3 separate regions of the Homo sapiens genome follow, and regions 1 and 3 are each linked to region 2. Evidence: fine-mapped expression QTL. A gene starts in region 2. Each other region holds a variant in brackets. All regions are shown on one strand. Distances are from middle to middle.

Region 1 (4,235 bases), 24 kb after region 2:
AGGCACTCAGCCCAGCCAATATAATTCTTTTTTTTTTTTTTGAGACAGTCTTACTCTGTTGCCCAGGCTGGAGTGCAGTGGCATGATCACAGCTCACTGCAACCTCTGCCTCCTGGACTCAAGCTGTCCTCCCACCTCAGCCTCCCAAGCAGCTGGGATTATGGGTGCCCATGACCACACCCAGCTAAGTTTTTAAATTTTTTTAGAGATTGAATCTTTCTTTTTCTCAGCCTGGTCTCAAACTCCTGAGCTCATATGATCTGCCCGCCTCCGTCTCCCAAAGTGCTGCGATTACAGGCATGAACCACTACGCCCAGCCTACAATTTATTTGTAATCCAAGTTTTATTGAAAAAAAAATCCACATATAAGTGGACATATGTAGATCCAACCTGTGTTGTTCCAGTGTCAACCATATATACCAATAATTCTTTTTTTTTTTTTTTTTTTTTTTTTTTTTTGAGATGGAGTCTTGCTCTGTCGCCCAGGCTGGAGTGCAGCGGTGCAATCTCATCTCACTGCAACCTCTGCCTCCCGGGTTCAAGTAATTCTCCTGCCTCAGCCTCCTGAGCAGCTGGGACTACAGGCATGCACCACCACGCCCAGATAATTTTTGTATTTTTAGTAGAGATGGGGTTTCACCATATTGGCCAGGCTGGTCTCAAACTCCTGACCTCAAGTGATCCACCCGCCTTGGCCTCCCAAAGTGTTGGGATTACAGGAGTGAGCCACTGTGCCTGGCCTATAATTCTTTACGTATATTGTTAGATTCAGTTTGCTAGTATTTTATTTAGCATTTGTGTATCTGTGTTCATGAGAGGTATTGTTCTGTAGTTTTCTTTGGTTTCTTTTCTGTCTGGTTTAGGGTAATGCTGGCCTCATAGAATAGGTTAGGAAATATTTCCTCTGCTTCTGTTTCTGAAAGAGAATTGAGGTAATATCTATTTTTTTTTTTTTGAGATGGAATCTTGCTCTGTCGCCTAGGCTGGAGTGTAGTGGCGCAATCTTGGTTCACTGCAACCTCTGCCTCCCAGGTTCAAGTGATTCTCCTGCCTCAGTCTCCTGAGTAGCTAGAATTACAGGCATGCACCACCATGCCTGGCTAATTTTTGTATTTTTAGTAGAGATGGGGTTTCACTATGTGGGCCAGGCTGGTCTTGAACTTCTGATCTCAGGTGATCCACCTGTCTTGTCCTCCCAATGTGCTGGGATTACAGGCGTGAGTCACTGTGCCTGGCCCGAGATAATATCTAATTTAACAGTTTGGTAGAATTCACCAGTGAACCCATCTGGGCCTGGTGCCTTTTGCTTTAGAAGGTTATTGATTATTGATTCAATTTCCTTAATAGATAAAGGTGCATTGAGATTGTCTTTTCTTCTTGGGTAAGTTTTAATACATTGTGTCTTTCAAGAAATTGTTCCATTTCATCTAGGTTATCAAATTTGTGGGATTAGAGTCCTTCATAATATTTCTTTGTTTTGCTTTTGGTGTCCATAGGTTCAGAAGTGATGGCCCTTTTTCATTTTTTCTATTAGTAATTTGTGTCTTTGCCCTTTTTTTTCTTTGTTAATCTGGCTAGAAGCTTATCAATTTTGTTGATCTTTTCAAAGAACCAGTTTTTGGTTTCACTGATTTTTCTCTATTAATTTTGTTTTCAATTTAATTGATTTCTGCTCTAATTGGTTTTCTTCTGCTCACTTTGGATTTAATTTTTTTTAGTTTTTCTAGAAAACTAAGTTTTTAAGTGAAAACTGAGATTATTGATTTTTAGATCTTTTTTCTAATGTTTACAGTTAACACTGTACAATTTCCTGTAAGCACTGCTTTCTCTATATCTTACAAATTTTGATGTCATATTTTCATTTTCATTTAGTTAGAAATATCTCTTGAGACTTCTTTGACCCATCTGTTATTTAGAAGTGTATTGTTTAATCTCCAAGTATGTATTTTGGGATTTTTCTGGCTATCTTTCTGCTGTTGATTTCTAGTTTAATTACATGTGGTCTGAGAGCATACCTTGTATGCTTTCTATTCTTTTCAATTTGTTAAGGTGCTCTTTGTGGCTCAAGGTGGTCTA[C/CT]TTTTTTTTTTTTTTTTTTTTTAAAGAAAAGCTGGCCAGGTGCAGTGGCTTATGCCTGTACTCCAGCACTTTGGGAGGCGTAAGTGGGAGGATCACTTGAGGTCAGGAGTTTGAGACCAGCCTGGGCAACATATAGAGACTTCACTTGCACAACAAATTTTTAAAATATTAGTTGGGTATGGTGGCATATACCTGTATATGGCTGAAGTGGGAGGATTGCTTGAGCCCTGGAGGTTGAGGCTACATGAGCCATGATCGCACCACTGTACTCCAGCCTGGGCAACAGAGTGAAATTTTGTTCTCTCTTGAAAAGAAAAAAAAAGTTGATGACATAAAGTTCATTCATCTTTTTTGTATGTGACTTCAAAATAACTACTGATGGTTAAAAAAAAAATCAGAATGATGCAACCCAAGTGTCCATCAATGGATGAATAGATAATATGTGGTGTATGAATACAATGGGCTACTATTATTCAGCCTTTAAAAATAAGAAAATGCTGACACTGCTGTAACATGGATGAACGTTCAGATCATTATGCTAAATGAGAAAAGCCAGACACAAAAGGACAAATATTGCATGATTGCACTTATATGAGGTATCTGGAATATAAGAGTCATAGAAACAGTAATTCAGTAATTAGAATAATGCTTGCCAGGGCCTGTGGGGAGGAGGGAATGAGGAATTCATGTTTAATGGGTACAGAGTTTCATTTGGAAAAGATTAAAAAGTTATGGAGGTGGATGGTGGTGAGGATTGCACAACAGTGTGAATGTACTTAATACCACTGAACTGTACACCTAAAAATGATTAAAATGGTACATTTTATGTTACATATGTTTTACAACAATTTTTACAGATGGAAAAAAATTATAAAAAACATCAGGATGGTGTTGACAGTGAAAAGGTTAAAGAGTTACTTTAAAAATTTACTTTATTCCAGCCGGGTGCGGTGGCTCACACCTGTAATCCCAGCACTTTGGGAGACCGAGGCGGGTGGATCACCTGAGGTCAGGAGTTTGAGACCAGCCTGACCAACATGGAGAAACCCCGTCTCTACTAAAAATACAAAATTAGCCAGGTGTGGTGGCGCATGCCTGTAATCCCAGCTACTTGGGAGGCTGAGGCAGGAGAATCGCTTGAACCCGGGTGGTGGAGGTTGCAGTGAGCCGAGATCTTGCCATTGCACTCCAGCCTGGGCAACAAAGCGCAACTCCGTCTCAAAAGAAAATTTTTTTTTTTTACTTTATCCCAAATGTTTATATTTACTTTGGGGCTTATGTGACCAGTTTAATTTTCATTTGTAATTGACTTGATAGAACACACTAATGTTCAGTTAAGATTTCTTATGGTGTGGTGAGGAGTAGGATTTTTATGTAAATAAGCCCAAAATTGTATATATGAGGTTAATCTGATATTTGCAGAAGATATTCATGCATTACTGTAAGGACCACTCTGCTTATTCATTTGACCGATTTGTTACAACATGGTTAGAAATCATCAAGGTGTTTGAGATCAAAGGATCTTCAGAGGTGATTTACTCCAATCCTTTTTTAAAAAATTAATAACTTGAGCCTCAGAGAAGTTAAGTGACATTACCAAGTTCTGCTGTTAGTATAGTGACTTTATCTTTACCTGAATCCAGGGTTTCTTAGCCCTAGTCTGTAATGTGTCCTAGTGTGCCTCTAGAATCTGGTCCTGTCAGCCCAAGTCTGTTAAATCAAATAAAACCAGGGCTTGGTGCTTCACCTTGTCTTCTGCCATACCGTTGGGTTTCCTGTGGACCATGCAGATAATGATGATGGGCTCAGTGGGCTTGATAGTGATAACTCCTAAAGCAGCTCCTTCTAAGTGCGGTTCTCAATCTGAGGAAGTTAAAAAAAAAATTAGTGACTAGAACCCACTTCTCAGGTACTCTGATAAAATACATTTGTAGGGGAGTGATAGTTTTCACTTTCTTTTTTTCTTTTTCTTTTTTTTTTGAGATGGCGTCTCGCTCTTTTGCCCAGGCTGGAGTGCAATGGTGCGATCTCAGCTTACTGCAACCTCTGCCTCCCAGTTTCAAGTGATTCTTCTGCCTTAGCTTCCTGAGTAGCTGAGATTACAGGTGTGTGCCACCATGCCTGGCTAATTTTTGTATTTTTATTAGAGACGGGATTTC
Region 2 (4,235 bases):
ATCTGCCTGGAGCCTACATTGGCGTAGTGCAAGGTCAAAGACATGAACATACATCTGAAAGGCCTGTCTCCATGGTCCCTTAGAGCAGCCCATACAAGAAACAGGCTGCATAAACTACCAAGGAAGCTGTTGTTTGCAGCTGAAGGGTCTTTGTGTGTTTTCCGTATTTCTGGTCGTGCTATTTATTCTCTTACCAAAAAAAAAAAAAAAAGTAAGGTCAGGCGTGGTGGCTCACCCCCTTGTAATCCCAGCAGTTTTGGAGTCTGAGGTAGGAGGATCGCTTAAGTCCAGGAGTTCCAGACCAGCCTGGGCAGCGCAGAGCAACTTCGTCTCTATGCCATGTTGACGCGTGCCTATAGTCCTAGCTACTCGGAGGCTGGGGCAAGAGGATCGCTTGAACCCAAGAGGCCGAGCCTGCAGTGAGCTGTGAATGAGTCACTGAACTCCAGATGACAGAGCAAGAGTTAGTCTCGAAAGAAAGAAAAAGGTAGAGCGACACTTAGTTCTTTGATAGTTTTCCACTATTTGTCATAAAAACTTTCCAGGATATTGAGCTCCCAAAATGGAAGGCCAATATCAGGCATCAGGGACTTGTTCTGGACGTTGGACCAACCTTAAAGGGCCCACATAGAAGCTGTTCACTTACTTTCTTTTAGTCTCTTGATTTAAAATACTTAACATTCCCCTTTCCTTGGCTTTTTAACCACTGAGATTTGAAAGACATGCAAATAACGACCTAGTGGACAATCTTTGCTGATGCTAAATCTTCATTTTAGGATTAAAAGGTTTTGGGTTTTCTTAAAATTTAATGCTGAACTCAGAAGAGCTTTCTAAGGCTGTTGGTGCACCTTAGGGCAGGAGAGCGTCTTTGCTACGCCGCGCAGGAGTGTGTCTGCTTCTCTGTGCATCTACACGTGTTTGCGTGTCCCTGTAAAGTGGGTTGAGTGTGCGGCTGCGGCTTTCCGCCCTTGGCTCACACTCTCAGTCTTAGTGGTCTCCCCCAGGGCTATGCATGGGGTACAGGTTTCTGTGGCCTCAGGCCGGGGTGAGGGGTCCCCCACCCCGGCCAGGGCGCAGCAGGGCGGGGCACACGTAGCCGTGCAGGGTCTCGCGCAGCCCGCGTCAGGACCCCGGGGCACACGCTCGGGCAGGGGGCGTGTCCCCACGCCACCAGAAAAAGTGTTATAGGCTGTTTTTTTTTTTTTTTTTTTTTTTAAAAAGAAAGTGTTTTAGAAAGCAGGCAGAAGCCAAGACGTCAGGAAGGGTTGCGAGGGCCCGGGATCCGGCGGCCACAGGGATGGGAGGGGCGAGGAGCGAGGGGCGGAGTGGCACCTCCCACAACGCGCTCCCTGCGGGGCGGGCGGCAACCTCCATGCGGCCTCGTCCACGCTCAGCACCGGGGAAGCCGAGGCGGAGAAGCCGCGCGCGCCTCAGAAGCTCCCGGACGCCCAGGTACGTGGGAGCACTCCACAGATGGCGCAAGTACGGTTGGGCCAGGCGGTTGCGGCCCCGTCGCGCCGCGGCCTCTGTGACGCACGGCGAGGCCTCCCGGGCTGCTGCGCGGCGCAGCGGGGGCGGGGCGAGCGCGTGAGGGCGGGGCGGTGGGGGGGGGGGGCGGAGCGAGAGGGGCGGAGCCGGCAGAGGCCCCGCCCCGGGGCCGGAGGAGCGAGGACGCTACGGAGCAGGCGCGTCTCGCTGCCGCCGCTGCCGCCGCCGCCGCTCGCTCTTCTGTGGAGCCGCCGCCGCCGCCGCCGCCATTTGCACGGGGACCCCAGTGACAGGGGCTCGGCGGAGGGGCGGAGGGGCGGAGGGAGGGGGGGAGGGCCCGCGGAGCCCCCGAGGGCGGGAGCGACGCCGCCGGCGCCGGCCGGGCTCCCTGCGCGACCGCGCCGCCCGCGGCGGGCCCCGAGCAGCAGCAGCAGCAGCAGCGGCAGCAGCGGCAGCAGCAGCAGCAGCCGAGGCCGGGCGTGCGCCTGAGGCGGCGGCGGCGGCGGCCCTGCGGGCGGCCGGGAGGGGCGGGGGCAGCGGCCGCCGCCGTTTGATGGATCCGAGGATCGCCTGGTTTCAGCCAGAGCAGCTCGGACCGTCCAACAGTCTGTGGATGCAGATCTGGGAGACGACCCAGGGGCTGAGGAACCTCTACTTCAACCACCACTGTCACAGCAGCGGCGGCGCGAGCGGCGGCGGCGGCAGCAGCAGCAGCAGCAGCACGGCCACCGGCGGGAGCGGCAGCAGCACCGGCAGCCCCGGCGGCGCGGCCTCGGCCCCGGCCCCGGCCCCGGCCGGCATGTATCGCTCCGGGGAGCGCCTGCTGGGCAGCCACGCGCTGCCCGCGGAGCAGCGGGACTTCCTGCCCCTAGAGACGACCAACAACAACAACAACCACCACCAGCCCGGGGCCTGGGCCCGCCGGGCGGGCTCCTCGGCGTCCTCGCCTCCCTCGGCGTCCTCGTCCCCGCACCCTTCGGCCGCCGTCCCCGCCGCCGATCCAGCCGATTCGGCCTCGGGCAGCAGCAACAAGAGGAAGCGCGACAACAAGGCCAGCACGTATGGACTCAACTACAGCCTGCTGCAGCCCAGCGGAGGGCGGGCCGCGGGGGGCGGCCGAGCAGACGGCGGCGGGGTCGTGTACAGCGGGACCCCGTGGAAACGGAGGAACTACAACCAGGGAGTCGTGGGGTGAGTGCTGGCTCTGCGGCCCGATGGCCTGGCCGGTGCGAATGCGCAGCCGGGCACACGCCCACAGAGGGGGGTTGTGAGGGTCTAGGAGCGGCCACCCCCACGGCCTGCCTTCGCTGCTGTTGCACGGGGGTGCTGCTGGCCATCCCCAACCCCCCAGTCGTTCACACCTTTCCCCAAGCCTCCTTAGCCGTCCACACCCTCCGTCTCCTGTCCTCCCTTAGTCGTCCACACCTTCCTCCCCTCCCTCTTAACCGTCCACACCTTCCCCAGGCCCCCCCCTTTATCCATTCACTCTCCTCCCATCCCCCTTAGTTAAACACATCTACCCTTGACCACCACCCCGCCTCCAGCCCTCCACACCTTTTTCCCCATCATCACAACTCAAGATGAGACCGCTTAGCACGGGCCTATCATTCATTCCCTGAGAACATTGGTGTGTGAGTGTTTTTTGATGGTGCAGGACCCGGAGGTGCTTTCCTTGCCAAGAATAGAAACATCCAGAATGCTCCTCCCCATCCCCCAATCCCAGACAGCAATTATGTCAGCCCTGTAAGGCATTGCCTGCTCTTGACCCTTTGGCCCATCTTTTTATTTTTAAAAAATTCCCATGTCACAGATGCCCTGTCTATGCAGAGGGTGGCGTGGGATGGGTGACCACTAAGTTTAGGCTGGTGAAGGTGGTGAGCCCTTCTGAGGCCCTGATAGAACTTTCCAGGAGTTCATGGTCCGCGGCTCCAGCTTCTCACTGTAAAGTTGTCATCCTGGCAGAGGCAGCCAATGCTTTTCATTCTAGGGGGTAGAGATTTATGCTAATGAGTGAATATTGCACCACTAGTGACTTTCTGTTTAAAGTTCAGCTCTTAGAAAATGGAATCTTACCTGACCCCTAGTGAATTATGTACATAAGCAGGGAATGTTTCCAACTAGATCTCCCTTCAGAAGAGTCCCTGTGCTGGAATAGGTCACTGAATCTTATTTGTTTTGTAAAACAAAGCTTTTGGGTCTCGTGGGTGTGTGTGTGTGTGTGTGTGTGTGTGTGTGTGTGTGTGTAGCTTGAGTATGGAGAACCGGCTTTCAAATTGCTTTTCATTTTTCAGGTTGTGTTTTACATTGAGGGCTTTAGCATGCAAATGAAATTACCAATTAGTAATCCCATGTGAACCTTTTCCTGGATTTATTCATTCAGATCTGCCCTGCTTTGGCTGAGAGAGAGAGTTCTGTGTACCTTTTTGAAGGTCTGGATAAAATGAGTTGGTGGGTTCCATCTGCTTCCAGTGGGCTGGTGTCTGCTCTATGCTACTATTACAACTCCTACCTTTTGTGGAAAATGCAGTCAAGCGTTCTAGGACTGGTGCTGTGGTACATGTCAAACCTGCCCTCACATTCCAGAAAGGGAACCCTTTTAGGGTTGAGTCCTCTGTTGCTAAGCTTCAAGGGTGCTCTCCATGGTCATCACGTTTTATTAAAGGCTTGTGGTTCCATCCTGTTAGCATTTCCAAGTCTACGCGTAAACCTGTGGTTTAGTGACAAGCAAATTGATGTTGAGGGTTTCT
Region 3 (4,235 bases), 78 kb after region 2:
GCGCTGCGCGGTGGACTGTCTTCTCTGTGCAATGATCTCATGCTCAGGACAGTTGCGCAGGGACTCCTGGGAGATATTCAGGAGCCTCACACTGTTCAGACGTTGACTTAGCAACTGCGTTTTTTCCCAGCTCGCCACAGAATGGATCATGAAGACTGACAACTGCAAAAAAAACAAAACAAAACAAAAAAAAAAGCAAGCAAAAAAGAGGGAAAAAAAAGGCTGCTTATTTGATAAGTCATATGCTACAACAGGGTCATTTTAAGATTTAAAGCTTGAATGTAAAATAAATATATTTCTCATTGGCTTTATGCAGAGTTATAGGGAATAGTATTCAGTGTTGGTAGGGTGATAGAAACAAAAAACAGTATCAGAGGATGAGGTGGGGAAGGAAAACAAAGGTATCTGATAGGAAGTCCAGATTCCAAAGGGGAAAGTGATCTGTGCATGTTTTTTTTTTAAATATTTTTGCATATATTTACCATTTTATTGTGTGTATATATAGAAGACCATATAGGAGATTGATATTTGTAATAGTGGATTTGTTAATAATACTTTTTACATAACATTACTGTTTAAATTGTAAACAGATTTTTTCTCAGGATTAGTTTGAAAAATAATCTAAATTGTCATCTTAACATCCATATATAGGGAAGTGATTAGTTCTATTACTCAATTTGTTTTTCTCAGCATTGAAATGACTTAATAGAACCCTTGTGTCCTGCTGCAAAAATTTTTCCTCTCTAAAGAAAAGGTTTATGGTGGCAAATGATGTTTATTTTATTTTGTAAAAAAAAAAAAATGTACTATGTACTTTTGTGTAAACACTGAAAAATCTCTGGTCATCTCCGAGAATTAACTTGCAACTGTTTTCTATAGTGCTGTCGTCTTGGGCAATGGGCAATTACATGACTTTGTGTTTGCTTCCTTTGCAGTCTTTTTTTTTTCCCCCCATTTCTTCCTAATAGGAAAAAAAAAAAAAAAAAGGTCACCCATGTCTGGTCTCATTCCTGTTGCAGTGAAACTTCGAGTTCCACAGACTTTGCATGCTGGCTTCTCTAACCCTGTGTGCTGCGTGTGCCTGTTTCTCATCTCTTATTCTTTTTAAAATTCATGCTTAACTACTGTGGGAGAATAACTGTAAACAGCTTTAATTAAATCATACTTATAAAAAACTATTTTCTTATATTCCACTCTATGCTTTTGGTATTGTTGATCTTTACAAATTAAATGGTCTTTGATAATGGATCTATTTTGTATTGCCTTATTAAGACCAAATACTTCTTGTCATCCCATTCTTTATCCTCTTCTTTCATGGAATTGTTATCGTTAATTAAAACTTTTTTAAACATTGGCTTGTTTCAATCATACTGTAAATTTTGGTTGTAGTCAGCTTTGAGTGCAATGAGATGTATAATTCTGTTATCATTACCTGTTGAGTTTGAAACTCAGTTGGGAATATTTAATATAATAGAATGTAAGTGACATTTCTGAAAATGCTTTCTTTCAGGGTGAAAGCTCTTATGTTTAGCATCAATGTGTATGGCTCTGTTAAATGCAGCCATTTCTGAGACGAGATTCTTTTATATATATATACATATAAAGTACTATTGGCTTTTAGGAGTTTCTTTTATATACATTTATGAAATACTGAAGACCAATCAGACCATTAATGGACACTTAGTGTAACTTTTTATAAAGAAAATAATG[C/CTTTA]TAAAGTAAGACCAAAACTGATGTCATCACTGAAATTAACAATTTTCAATATGTTCATATTTTAATTCACAATGGAAAAATGTGTTCCAAAACTGGAAACTCATAGTACTCGTGTAAACTGTGGAAGATTTCAAATGTGATGTTATTTTGACAATGTTTTAAATTTTAGAGTCACATTTTATTCTGATCAGAATTTTTATTGAGATGTTGAGCTTTTGTTTTTGAAACTAGTTTGTCATAACATTGTGCATAATCACAGTATTTATTTTCTAGGACAATTGTGAATGTGTAGACTTATGTTTACTGCTAAGGGAACAATTATTTATAAAATAATATTAAATCCAGTATTAGCTGCCTATTTCAGACACTTAATACTTGCAGAGATCTATGTTACATTTACCACACTGAAGTTTTTTTTGTTGTTTTTTGTTTGTTTTTAAAGAATCACCCTCATTGTTGAAAGTAAATGTACTCTTAGGGTGCGAATATTAGTGTTCCAATAAGCATGTGATTATATTAAGGTGGTGGTAGCGGGAAGATAATTCTGATTCCATTGGGAATCTTAGGTTTTCGTAAATTTATTGGGAAAATAGTTTTTCCTGTACTGCTGAAGTTTCTTTTTGGTAAACAGTATCTTTCTAAAAGAAAAAAGCATGAAGGAGAAATTGAGGTGTGTATACATTTCCTCAAATGACCAGCATTGTATTCGTGAATACTGTGTATCTTGCAGTGAACAGTGTGGAAGCTGTTCATTTTTCAATCTGAAGTAAAATACTTTCAAGAACTTTTAGTTTGCCTGCTCATTTGTTTTATACATTTCATCTATTTGACTCCTATCTTATTTCTTTTTTGAGTTTTAATACTTCCTATATTTTGTGAATATATCAGAAATGTGTCATTTATATATTAGAGTCCATTCATATCCATGAATCATAACCTTCCTTTGCTAATACTTGTTGAATGGGATTTTACAAATTCTCCCTCACTCTGGTGACATTTCTCAGGCAGTCATGTATGTGTACCTGGCCATTAGAAATATTAATATTTAAAGACTGTTTTTTAGAGGAGCTGATGGGTTGGTGAGGTGTCAGCACAAAATCTTACTGGTTATGTTTTGATGATAAAAGTATATCCATTTTTTCCCTCCAGCTTTAAGGTGACTGTGAAGGTGCCTGGTTTTGAATGTCTTTGTTTGGTTTGGAGATGTCGCACTCAGTTTTCAAATCTAGCTTGGATCTGTAGGACCTATGTTTTTTACAAGTAATTGCCCTCCAGTCTTCAACAGTTGATTCTGTTTTATTTTTATCCTGTTTTGAGTGTACTTTACCTTTACTTGCATTTTGAGCCTCATTAATATTTAGGTTATTTGATTTGGCTCCAGATATTCCTAGATCTGCACAGGGCAAAACATGGGCTATAGGGTGAGCATTTTTAATTGTCTTTTTCTGCTGGAACCTTATATCTCTCCATGTGTTTTCTGCTCCTTCCCTCCCCCATGAAATGGTAAGTGTGACTTGTGTTTGCCTGAACCTGTGGACTAGTGTTTGGGGTTTCTGGAAACACTAGAGGGTCAGAAAAGAGTAATGACCACCGTGACGTGCAGGATTCTCTTGCTGTGACATGTTCATTGCAAAGCCCTCTCCAGTGACTAGGAGGTGTAGTTATTAAGGTTGATCTGTTAGAAATCACCATTATTAGGTATTAGTGGTAGATGTTGCTGATACTTTTATTGGTCATGACTACATCTCAGTTTTACTTTAATATTGATCTATAGTTTGATCAGTTCCTTGAATTCTAATATGTTGATTTCTCAGTGTTTCTGTCACTAACCAAGAATGTTTCTAGGCAGTTGGTTGCTTCACAGTCAAAACTAAATGGTAAACTATCAAAAATACATTCCCAATTTTGCTGTGATAAATATTGAAATGTTAAAATTAATGAACAGAAGAATTTATTCTTACCCATCTATTCTTGTTCTCCTAGTTCATTAAACTTTCAGTTATTGGAAAGGCACATTCTCAAAGTATTTTATGAGCAAAATATTCTATAAATGCGTCTAACAAACCTAATTGAATATAAAAGTTATATTTAGTAGTTACTGTTGATAGTAATTTTCATCAGGGTCATAGTTCATCTAGTAAAATATTTAGAGAATGATGTTAACATTCCAGCATTAAAGTGGGAACAAAGATTTATATATGAAATTCCTTAAAAGAGTTCATCTTGCCTTGGTTTCTGACCCTCAAGACTCTAGCTACCTGCCATCTTGTCAAAACATTTGTGGGTAGAATAAGTGTTAAAGATCAAATTTTAATATGCTTCTCGATATTTAACATAGCTAAGAAGCCAGATTTTACTGTAGAAGTTATTTACATGATTTGAAAACTTGACCTAACTGGAAGCCTTTTTCTCAGTCATCTTGTTCTAAGCCATCTTGACTTCACACCCTTAGCGACTTTTCTTTTTTTTTTGGTCAAAGATAATGAGCTAAATATATATAGACGTTGAATGTTGACAAAATTATT

Evidence for each region. PIP is the estimated chance that this variant, and not a neighbour inherited with it, causes the effect.
Region 1: its variant is fine-mapped to the expression of TENT4B in whole blood (INTERVAL, PIP 0.96).
Region 3: its variant is fine-mapped to the expression of TENT4B in whole blood (INTERVAL, PIP 0.93).

The regions. Positions count from the first base shown.
Region 1 is chr16:50,176,066-50,180,300 of GRCh38, forward strand. All of the region lies in intron 1 of TENT4B (terminal nucleotidyltransferase 4B), which reads left to right. Among named protein-coding and RNA genes, the nearest start is that of TENT4B, 25 kb to the left of the region's middle. The variant C/CT (reference allele first, on the strand shown) is at 2,077.
Region 2 is chr16:50,151,581-50,155,815 of GRCh38, forward strand. TENT4B (terminal nucleotidyltransferase 4B) reads left to right here and starts at 1,726. Exons shown (of 12, transcript NM_001365324.3): 1 at 1,726-2,679. The coding sequence starts at 2,042. It also overlaps the pseudogene RPL10P14 and the pseudogene LOC124900375. RefSeq lists enhancers at 782-1,739, 3,377-3,426 and silencers at 966-1,055, 1,276-1,445, 1,556-1,715, 1,946-2,045, 2,226-2,275 and 1 more.
Region 3 is chr16:50,229,332-50,233,566 of GRCh38, forward strand. It overlaps TENT4B (terminal nucleotidyltransferase 4B), which reads left to right. Exons shown (of 12, transcript NM_001365324.3): 12 at 1-4,235. Among named protein-coding and RNA genes, the nearest start is that of ADCY7, 35 kb to the right of the region's middle. The variant C/CTTTA (reference allele first, on the strand shown) is at 1,711.